2 separate regions of the Homo sapiens genome follow, and region 2 is linked to region 1. Evidence: fine-mapped expression QTL. A gene starts in region 1. The other region holds a variant in brackets. All regions are shown on one strand. Distances are from middle to middle.

Evidence for each region. PIP is the estimated chance that this variant, and not a neighbour inherited with it, causes the effect.
Region 2: its variant is the best candidate, but not a certain one, in a credible set for the expression of MCF2L2 in skeletal muscle (GTEx, PIP 0.79).

What each region holds. Positions count from the first base shown.
Region 1 is chr3:183,426,057-183,431,430 of GRCh38, reverse strand. It overlaps MCF2L2 (MCF.2 cell line derived transforming sequence-like 2), which reads left to right and starts at 2,812. Exons shown (of 30, transcript NM_015078.4): 1 at 2,812-3,529. The coding sequence starts at 3,454. RefSeq lists a silencer at 2,983-3,062.
Region 2 is chr3:183,297,628-183,303,001 of GRCh38, reverse strand. It overlaps MCF2L2 (MCF.2 cell line derived transforming sequence-like 2), which reads left to right. Exons shown (of 30, transcript NM_015078.4): 11 at 2,806-2,997. Among named protein-coding and RNA genes, the nearest start is that of B3GNT5, 47 kb to the right of the region's middle. RefSeq lists an enhancer at 3,827-4,121. The variant G/C (reference allele first, on the strand shown) is at 2,249.

The sequences.
Region 1 (5,374 bases):
AGCACAAAGAGGCATAATATAAGAGATCATAATTAGGAAGGAGAAAAACAGGCAGGGAAGGTGGGAGGGTGGGAAGAAAGAAGACAGAAAGAATGTCAGTGTTCATGAGAACAATGGAGACAATGACCATTTTCTTGGAAGAACAAGGAGGTATGAGCTATTGAACACTATGTGGTCATTTCTTCTTCTTCTTCTTCTTTTTTTCTTTGAGATGGAGTCTCACTCTGTCACCCAGGCTGGAGTGCAGTGGTGCTATATTGGCTCACTGCAACCTCTGCCTCCTGGGTTCAAGCGATTCTCCTGCCTCAGCCTCCTGAGTAGCTGGGATTACAGGCGCCCACCACCGTGCCCGGCTAATTTTTGTATTTTTAGTAGAGATGGGGTTTCGTCATGTTGGCCAGGCTGGTTTCGAACTCCTAATCTCAGATAACCCACCCACCTCGGCCTCTCAAAGTGCTGGGATTACAGGTGTGAGATAATGCACCCAGCCGATCATTTCTTCTTAATTCCAGTTATAGGATTTCAGAGCTGGAAAAGGGAACTTGGAGATCACAGACCCACTTCCTTACTGCCCAGGGGAAGCAGTGAAGGCCCTGAGAGAGTAAGTGTCAGAGATAAGAGCAGAATTAGTTTCTGAGGATAGGCACTGCCTGCTACATCTCACCATAACTTGAGCTCATTTATCTCCATGGAAACCTTTGAGGACTGTGAAAGTACCAAAGATGTGGGCAGCACTCTGAGTGTGATTTATTTCCTTTCTGTTTTCTTTTTGTTCTCATTCTTAATCATAAGCTTCTCCTCCCTCCTTTTCCTCTCCTCCATTCCTTCTCTTCTTCCTTTTCATGTTTCTCACCCATAAGGACCCGGCCTAAGCCAGGAAGCTGAGGTTACTGGATCTTCAAAGTGGCTCTGACACTCCAAGTCCAACATACCCCACATCATTGTCTTCTTTACTAGGCGTTGGTTTCTGCTGACCAAAACTCACAGTTGGCTGTGACTGGGCACCAGGGTTCTGACTACTATCAGTAGGAAACATCTCATTTGGTTCCTTGAAAATTCTTGTGACCCTTGAACGCCGGAAACATAATTCAAAAGCTGCCTCCCCTCCTGCGGATCTTTAACCTTTCTTTTTTTTTTTTTTTTGAGATGGAGTCCCATTCTGTTGCCCAGGCTGGAGTGCAATGGCACGGTCTTGGCTCACTGCAACCTCCGCCTCCTAGGTTCAAGCAATTCTCCTGCCTCAGCCTCCCGAGTAGCTGGGATTACAGGTGCGTGACATCATACCCAGCTAATTTTTGTATTTTTAGTAAAATGGGGTTTCACTATGTTGGCCAGGCTGGTCTTGAATGCCTGACCTTGTGATCCGCTCGCCTTGGTCTCCCAAAGTGCTGGGATTACAGGCGTGGGCCACTACGCCCGGCCTTTTAACCCTTTTTTGAATCTCTTGCAAAAGGTGGTTGTGAAAATGGTTGCTCAGTGGCCGGGCATGATCACTTGAGTCCATGTGTTTGAGACCAGCCTGGGCAATATGGTGAAACTCCATCTCTAAAAACGAAAAAAAAAAAAAAGAAAGAAAAGAAAAAGAAAATCCTTGCTCTGTTTTGCAGGCAGAGTGCAAAGTGCCCAAACTTCACAGGGGGAAGAACCTCTCCACAAATCTCATGACACAGGTGAACTGACCTCGCTTCTCAATCACAGCCCACAATTGTTAGAGAAAGCATTAAAAAGGGCTGGGCGCGGTGGCTCACGCCTGTAATCCCAGCACTTTGGGAGGCCAAGGTGGGCGGATCACGAGGTCAGGAGATCGAGACCATCCTTGGCTAACACGGTGAAACAAACCCCATCTCTACTAAAAAATACAAAAAATTAGCCGGGCGTGGTGGCGGGCGCCTGTAGTCCCAGCTACTCGGGAGGCTGAGGCAGGAGAATGGCGTGAACCCGGGAGGCGGAGCTTGCAGTGAGCTGAGATCGCGCCATTGCACTCCAGCCTGGGCGACAGAGCCAGACTCAGTCTCCAAAAAAAAGAAGAAAAGAGAAAGCATTAAAAAAATACCCTCAGCCCCCTGTGATGGGTGGCTACTCCTAGAATTTGGATCCAGGGTGTTTGCGGCTTGGCTTTTTACATATCGAAGAGGAAAGAGATGGCTGAGAACATCCGCCTGGGTGGTCCCGCCATTCCGCCTGCTGAGTATTCAGGGACTCCCGCTGTAGAAAGGATTGGGGGACAACCTGACCGAATTCGCATTTGCTCAGGCGTTTCCCGTAGCGCTCTGCTGAACTGGGGTTAGTCTTTTGCTGCCAGTCAGAAAGTGTCTGGGCCCAACTAGGGAAACCACGGGATAATGGGCTGATGGGGAGGAGGACCAGCATGGAGGATGTGCCACAGCCCCTCCAGAAGGTAGCACTGGCGTGCCTGACAGGTGACAGACGGAGCAGAGGCAAGGGCGCAGCTGCACGAAGGAAAACGCCCACATAGGGGGTGAGCGCGCCCACGCGTGCTCAGCCTTGTCGGAGCGCAGCCCGGGCGCCGGGCTCCCAGTGCAGGTGTGGCCAGCGGAGGTCAAGAACTGCGTGGAACAACCCCAAGTGGGGGAAAACACACGCCAGCCGCCCCCGGGGTCAGGAGGTGGGGCAAGCAGCGGCGCCTCACCCAGCCTCCCGCTCCGGGTCCTGCCGGATGGCGGCAGCTCTCCGGGCCAGCCCCCTTCTCTCCGCGGCTCCTCCGCAGACACCCGGCGCGGAAGAAGGAGGGGCGGAGACCTGGCCGGCGCGCGTCTGATGATCCGGACCCCGGTGCGACTGGAGCGCCTCAGTCACTGTCTCCCCGCCCCACGGTTCCGAGTAAGGACCGGAGCTCCACTCCGGGGGTGGAGCGCGGGCTCCCCGCAGGGAAAGGTGCGCAGCGTTCCCGACCCCAAAACGAGCGGCGCTTGGGAGCGTGCGTGCCTCCCCGAGAGCCCCGGGCGCCACCCGTGGGCTGGACGAGGTGGGCGCTGGGGCGTGGGGCCGGCGGCGCAGAGAAGCCACGGCCACCTGCCGCCTCCCCTGCACCTGGCGGAGCATCCCTCACTCTACAGTCCCTGGAGGCGGCGCCGGAAACCTGGCGGCCGGGACCGCGATTCTGGAAGCCCCGGAGCTCGCCCGGCCGGAGGAGCCGGGGCGCGGTTCCGGCGAGATTGGCGACTTGCTTCCTTTTGCAGAACGGCCGCTCCTCTCTCGGTCCAGCTGCGACGCTGGGAAAGCGCCAGACTTGGTCTGTCACGGGAGCCCCCGCGGGGCGTGGCGAGGGAGAGCTGGCCTAGGCTGCGAGGGACTCTCGTTTCTTGCCTGGAGAGCCAGGAAGAGGGCGAGGGCAGAGCATCCTTGGGCGGAGATGCCTTTAAAAAATCATCCACCGCAGCGGTAGAAACAGTTTTGTTTGGCTTTATTTATACGGAATGGTTTTTCAGTGAAATGCTGTCTTGCTTAAAAGAAGAGATGCCTCCCCAGGAGCTCACCCGGCGACTGGCCACAGTGATCACTCATGTCGGTAAACGAAGCTTTAATTTTTCCTGCGTTTTATTAATGGCGGGTGAGGATGGTCTCTGGGCTTCATCTGGCTCCTGGCCTCACCCGCTGCCCCGGGGCAGCGCGCTTCCTGGGGGGTTGCCCGGCATCTGGGCCTCGCTGCTCTGGGTCCTGCCTGCGGTGCCCAGCGGGGGGCATCCCTGGGGCGCGCCGCTGGTGGGGGTCGGGGGGCCGAGGCTGGTGCCTTCACCAGGTGGTTGCCGAGTCCGTTGAGCTCCAAACCGAGGGCTGCTGGGCTGTTACCATCCGTTAGCTGCTTCTGACGGGAGTAGGGTGGGTGGGAAGTTATGTTCTGGTTTTGGGGATAGTGAGAAAGGAGAGGGCATAAGAGGAACGAATGCCAGTGCTTTTCAGCAGAAATGATTGCCACGCCACTGAAGGCTTGTTTATAAGAAAGTGCAGGGAGAGGCAGGTTACATGGGAGCGCCCCTGCGCAGCTCGGCCGCTAGGCCTGTTTTACTGTGCTGCCTGGAGGGTTAAGCACACCCCTGATGATCCCCGCGAGAAATCTCTGCAAGCCAAGGAGACTGAGCAATTTTAATCTTCTTCCCTGAGTTGAAAAGAGGAGCAAAACATGCATTGCTTGCTCCTGAAATAAGGGTTGTGATGGAACGTCAGGCCCCACAGACTAAGTAAGGGCAAGAGGACATTGAGACAGTTCCCAGTCAGTTTTTTCTTAGCACTTTCTTCCCCTTGGCCTTCCCTGGACCTCCCTCAGTAAAGACACACATTCAGGTTCAGAACCTCTGGATGTGGGCAACTGGAATTATCGGGATCATTTTCTCTGTTGCTGACTGTGCTTGGAGGTCCTCCCATGAATGCAAATCAGCTTTTATTGATAAAGCCAGGAACTATTTGCCTTGGTTTTCTACACATTTGTGAAAGCTGCTTTCTTGGTACTTGCATGTTAAATGTTGCCTCAATTAGTCCAACGTGTTTGCTGTAATAATCGTGCACATCTCAAATGATACACTTGTGAGGACATACTTTGTAAAGATGATTTATATGGGAAGGCCCAGTTTTGATAATTCAAGTTTAGAAAAAAGTTTCTGGTGCCAATTGTGGGCACTGAACTTTTACGACAAAAGATCAGTAGGATCCTACCAGGTAAGGTTGAATGTGAAATATTGCTGAAGGCAGTGTGAAATAAGAGGAAAAAGAACTTGTAATGAAACAGAATTCGGAATCTGCAATATGATGAAAGTTGAAATGATTGTGCTAAAACCCAGCACAGGCATGAAGTTGTGGTATAGAGAAAGAGCAGTGGACTCGGGGTGTGACCGTCTGGATTTGAATCTTTCCCTGGACAAGTCATTCGACCTCAGGTTGAAAAATAGGAATTTTAATAGTACTTTCCCACTCAGCTCAAAGGCTACTTGTGAAGATAAGTAAGATAATTTGGGTAGAAATACTGTGTACACTGTGATTATACAGACATTTCAGTTATTAGACATATCCCTGGTCCCTCTGTCACGCCACTAAAGATCTTTGGTGGGTTACTGGGCCTCTCTCAGGGCGAAGCCTCCCATCTGTTAAACGAGGGGTTGACCTGGATGATTTTAAAGGTCCCTCCTATTTCTCTGGAGCAGGCTCTTCTTGAAAATCTGGCAGGCAGTATTCCTTGACTAACACTTAGCTGCCTGTGGCGCCCAGGCTATGGTATTTTCTTGCCTACCTTGCTCCCTCCCTCCTTCTATAGACAGCTCCATGCAGGATACACATAGGAATTTGTTGTAGTTTCTCCTTTCAACCTCTAATGACCCTTGGCTTTTGTGTGCTTTGCAAGATTCTGTCTCCTCATACTTAA
Region 2 (5,374 bases), 130 kb after region 1:
AGGATGGTCTCGATCTCCTGACCTCATGATCTGCCCGTCTCGGCCTCCCAAAGTGCTGGGATTACTGGTGTGAGCCACCGCGCCCAGCCAGGAGGGAGGAATTCTACATTAAAGTAAATAAAGAAAATAGTTTTTAGATAGAGATAATGCTGTTAAAGAATTAAAGTGTGGGAGAGGGCCTAGGTGACTGGGCGAATAGGTTGTAGAGAATGACTTAAGATATAGTCGCCAGGGAAGCGCTGTGAGGAGGTGACCCAGGAACTCAGCTCTGCATGACCCAGGGAAGAACAATCCAGAGAAGGGTCGAGTCAGGAGCTAGTTTGGTGACCAGCCGTAAGCCGTATCTCTCGGCTGGATTCCTGCAGCAGCCCCTTAATGAGTCTCCCTGCATTTCCTCTTATTCTGGACACTGTACCGGGAGTGGTCCTTTCAAAAACATGATCGAGATCCTCCCTCCAAACCCAGGGGCTTTCCTCTCACCCCGGCTATGGAACCCCCTCTTTCCTCTAGTTAGTCTTCCACTCATTTCCTTCTTGCTCCCTCTGCTGCAGCCACACTGGCCTCCTTCCTGCTACCCAAACTTGTCAAACACGCCTTCACCTCCCAGCCAAGTACTGCACGGCTTGTCCCTGACTTCAGGTCTCAGCTTGTATGCAGAGCGCTCCCAAGACCATGCACACATTTCTTCGAAGATTCACTAGGAGGATTCTGCATGTAGCTGTATTAGAGTTATGATCTATTAAGATGAGAAAGTACTAAGCAAAATTAGCAAAGGAGAAAGGCATGCGAGGTGAAGTCTGGAGGAAACCAGGCACAAGCTTCTTAGAATCCTCTCCTGTGGGAGTCTCACAGGACATACTTCCTGCCCCCGTCTGTGGGTTGTGACAACATGTGTGAAATGTTGTCTACCAGGGGAGCTCATTAGAGACTCAATGCCCAGAGGTTTTATTGGTGGCTGGTCATGTCAGCAGCTTCTGTCTGGCAAGTACCAAGATTTCAGACTCCCAGAAGAAAAAGCAAGTAATCACCATAAACCATACTGTTTGCACAAACAGTTCAGGGATCATGAACCATTCACATCAGGGAATGGAGGAAACCTTCCCAAAAATCTAAGTTCCTAGATGCCAACAAAGGGCCAATCTTAAAATCGGGTCTTTCTTTCTAAGGCTGTAGTGTCAGGCTTTCTTTTCTCTTTTTTTTTTTTTTTTGGAGACAGAGCCTAGCTCTCACCCAGGCTGGAGTGCAGTGGCACGATCTTGGCTCACTGCAACCTCCTCTTCCCAGGTTCAAGCAATTCTCCTGCCTCAGCTTCCAGAGTAGCTGGGACTATCGGCGCATGCTGCCATGCCTGGCTAATTTTTTTTGTTTTAGTAGAGATGGGGTTTCCCTGTGTTGCCGAGGCTGGTCTCCAACTCCTGAACTCAGGCAATCCGCCTGCCTCGGCCTCCCAAAGTGCTAGGATTACAGGCGTGAGCCACCACAGCCCGGCCTAGTCTCAGGCTTTCTATGTGAAGTCTTTTCTGCATAGCTTGAGTACTCCTTCTCAGGGAGACTGTCTCACCATCCGATTTAAAATACTAGCTCCAGCACTCCCTGCCCTCCCCACCATCTAATTTTTCTCCACATACTCATCACTGTCTAAGATACCATATGACCTACACATGCACTTGTTTATTGCCTCTGTCTCCCATTAAAATGTAAGCTTCATTTCATGAGGTGGGGGTTTTTGCCTGCTTTCTTTACCAATGAACTCCCAGCACCTATGACAGTGTTTGGCAAATAGCAGGTTCTCAATAATATGAGAAGGATGAATGAAGGAATGCTTAAACAAACAGGAAAACTTGGCACGTGTGGTTAGAGCGAAGTGTCATGCAGAAAGAGGTAGGAAATGTGATTGAGCAGACAGGGTCAGTGTAGACAGGGCCCTTACAGGCTTTGGGAAAGGGTTTAGACAAGCATATTTCTTTTTTTTTTTTTTTTTTTTTTTGAGATGGAGTCTTGCTCTGTCACCCAGGCTGGAGTGCAGTGGCGCAATCTCAATTCACTGCAATCTCCGCCTCCCGGGTTCAAGCGATTCTCCTGCCTCAGCCTCCTGAGTAGTTGGGATTACAGACACCTACCACCACGCCCATCTAATTTTTGTATTTAGTAGAGACGGGGTTTTTCCACGTTGGTCAGGCGCGTCTTGAACTCCTGACCTCAGGTGATCCGCCCACCTCGGCCTCCCAAAGTGCTGGCATTACAGGTG[G/C]GAGCCACCACGCCCAGCCTAGACAAGCATATTTCTTAAGTGTCATGACCACCTTTGAGTTGTCCAAATCCAATTTTCACCAGTGTTTCAACTTCAGCTCACCCCCCACTCTCCTCAAGGACAGGTGTCAGTCCCTCTTCTTGTTCCTTTAGTTAATAGGGGTATTCAAAATCTCTTATTATGTGCACTCCATGCTTTTCTGCCCTAGAGTTTATTGCAATTGTAATAATTTAACGATTTGTGTAATTTAGTTGATATCTGAATTCTCCATTAATCTGAAAATTTTGGGCTTGTTAACACTATATCCTCGATGTCTAGCCCAGAACTCAACAGGTATTTGAATGAATGACTGCTGTTGTTCAGCATGTGGACAACTCTGGGCCAGGCTTAACTTCCTGGGCCTGGAACCATTCCGAGCTTTCTCAGGTTCTCCAGCCTTCATCCTGGGTTAGCATCTCCACAGCCTCCCTCCAGGCTTGGAGCACACAGTACCAGGCAGCTCTCAGCCTCATGATGCTCTGACTTCTGACGCCTGGCTGTGGGTGTTCACTTTGCAGGAGCCCCTGGAAAAGGCCCAGCTGCTGGCACTGGTTGGGGACCAGCTCATCCAAAGCCACCATTATGCAGCAGATGCCATCAGGCCCCGGTGTGTGGAGCTCAGGCACCTCTGTGACGATTTCATCAATGGAAACAAGAAAAAATGGGACATTTTAGGAAAGTCCTTAGAGTTTCATAGACAGCTGGACAAGGTGAGCAAAACACAGCCAAGAACATGATGTCTGCAAGATTTTCTGTGAAGAAGCTTCCATCATACTCGTCCTCCCTTCCTTGTGTGATTGCTGAGAGGCTTGAGTGCTTTATGTGAAAAGATGTTCGAGAGGCATTAAAAACTGTGCAGATCCTGGGGTGTAGAAGTATACCTGGCACGAAGGTAAAAAGTGCTCTGGCCATCCCACCACATCCCATTAAAGTTAACTGAAGCCCATTTCTATCTGTGTGGAGCCGGACTTTAAGAGTGTGTTTTGGCTTGGCCCTGTGGGAACACTTCTTGATTCCCTTTCAGGTGTACAGAGAACCAAGCACTATATTTGCAGAGTGCTTCCCTCATATAAAGGCAAAGGGTTTTGACTCTTTTTGGAGAAGCTTAAGTAATAACAACCATTTTATACCCCCTACCATGTATCGAGCACCTACTGCATTCCTACCAGGAACATAATTATGTCATCTATTTATAATCCTCAAGACAACCTCTGAGGAAGGTATTAATGGCCTCATTGTGCAGAGGCAGAAACTGATACTCTGCTGGGTCTCAAAATGTAGCACACGAGAATCACCTAGTGAGCTGTTATATGGCAGATTCCCTTATGCACTGCCCTGAAGACTCAGCGTCGATAGGTCTGGAATACTGCCCAGGAACTAGTATTTTAGTAAAGTGTCTAAATGATTCTGGTGCAGGTGGTGCAGGGATGTCACCAAGAAACCCTGGGGTAAATGACTGCCCAAGACCACACATGGTGCACACAGGGGAAGCCAGAATTAAAGTCAGGCCTGCCAGATTCCACACCAAGGCTTCACAGGATAGACAGCAAGGGCGCATGCCAGGGGCCCACAAGGAGAGGGGTGCCCTTTGGAGGTGACCTCTAGGGTATGTTCCCAGTCAGCAGGAGCAGCGGTTTCTGGAGTCTTCCCTGTGAGCTGGTCCCAGGCAGCATGTGGCTGACGGCAATGAGTCAGCATGCTCCATCCCCACAGCTGTTCCTCTTGCATGGCAGGGGGCACCCACCCAGGCGCTTACCTCATCCCATTGCTAAAGGGATTTTAATGTCAATGAAATATAGTTGTTTCAGAAGCAAGTAGCTCCGAAGGGGCTGGTGTGCAGCCTGCTCTGTGTGCTGAGCTCGCTGTGGGATCAGCTGCTGTTTTCCCAACTCCATTTTTGCTCCAGAGATTATAAGCCTGGTGTGTGTGTGTGTGTGTGTGTGTGTGTGCATGTGTGTTTGAGAGAGAGAGAGGGAGACAGAGAGAGAGAGAAAGCAAGTAGCCATAGTAACTCTACAGAAAATCCCAGCCTAATGTTTTTTGCAGATCTGGGCATGATGTGTAAAGAGAAAGTTTTCACAGCATATATCAAAGCATGAGTTCATATTATTGTGGAAATCCAAAAATGTAGGAAGAAAAAGGTTACTCATGGGCACGTACATATCCCACTATCCCCCATCCCTACATAATGGTAATTATTAATTCTGAAATATCTTTATGATTTTTTATTATTCTAAATGTGGTACATATTCACTGTAAATAATCTAGGAAAAAAATAAGACAAAAACTTAAGTTGCCTATCATTTTCCCACTTAGAAAGACAACCACTTTGGCGTGTTGCATTTTGATCTTTTTTCTCTGTATAGTTACTTTATATTGCTTTTCAGGTCACATGGTAAATGGAAATGCAGAGGTATTGGCACTGGAAACTTCTTTTCATATAACTCTTCAGGTAGCATAAGGGCTCCCTGTCTTTCTGTTCAAGTGTCTCAGTGGAGTTCAAAAGAGCAAAGAAAATGAGTCTTTTTTAAAAATTGAATAATTAGAACTCATCACCTATCTAATGTCCTCCCAGCATCCAGAAACTCTTGAGTATCGCTGTGCTGAGTTACAAAGCTTTGCATTCTTGCTTCCTTACGAAAGACAAACGCCAGTAAATGCAAATAGGGATCACCTGGGAATCCAAAGATGAAAGTTGTGTTTTTGTTAAAAGGGACATGCCCTTCTCCCAGGAAATGTAAGGGCCAGGTCTAATGTCTTATTAATCACCCTGTGTTCTGGTAACCAATTCGGATGCAAGAAGAGTGGACTAGCAGGTAAACCCCAAAAGCCATTGATTACATTTCTCTATGGTTAGACCAGCCTAAGAGATATTTAGCTATAAGGCTGGGTGGGTGCAGTGCCTCACACCTGTAATCCCAGCACTTTGGGAGGCCGAGGTGGGAGGATTGCTTGAGCCCAGGAGTTCGAGAGCAGCCTCGGCAACATGGCCAAAACCTGTCTCAAAAAAAGGAAAGAAAGAAAGAGAGACAGAGAGAAAGAAAGAGGAAGGAAGGAAGGAAGGAAGGAAGGGAGGAAGGAAGGAAA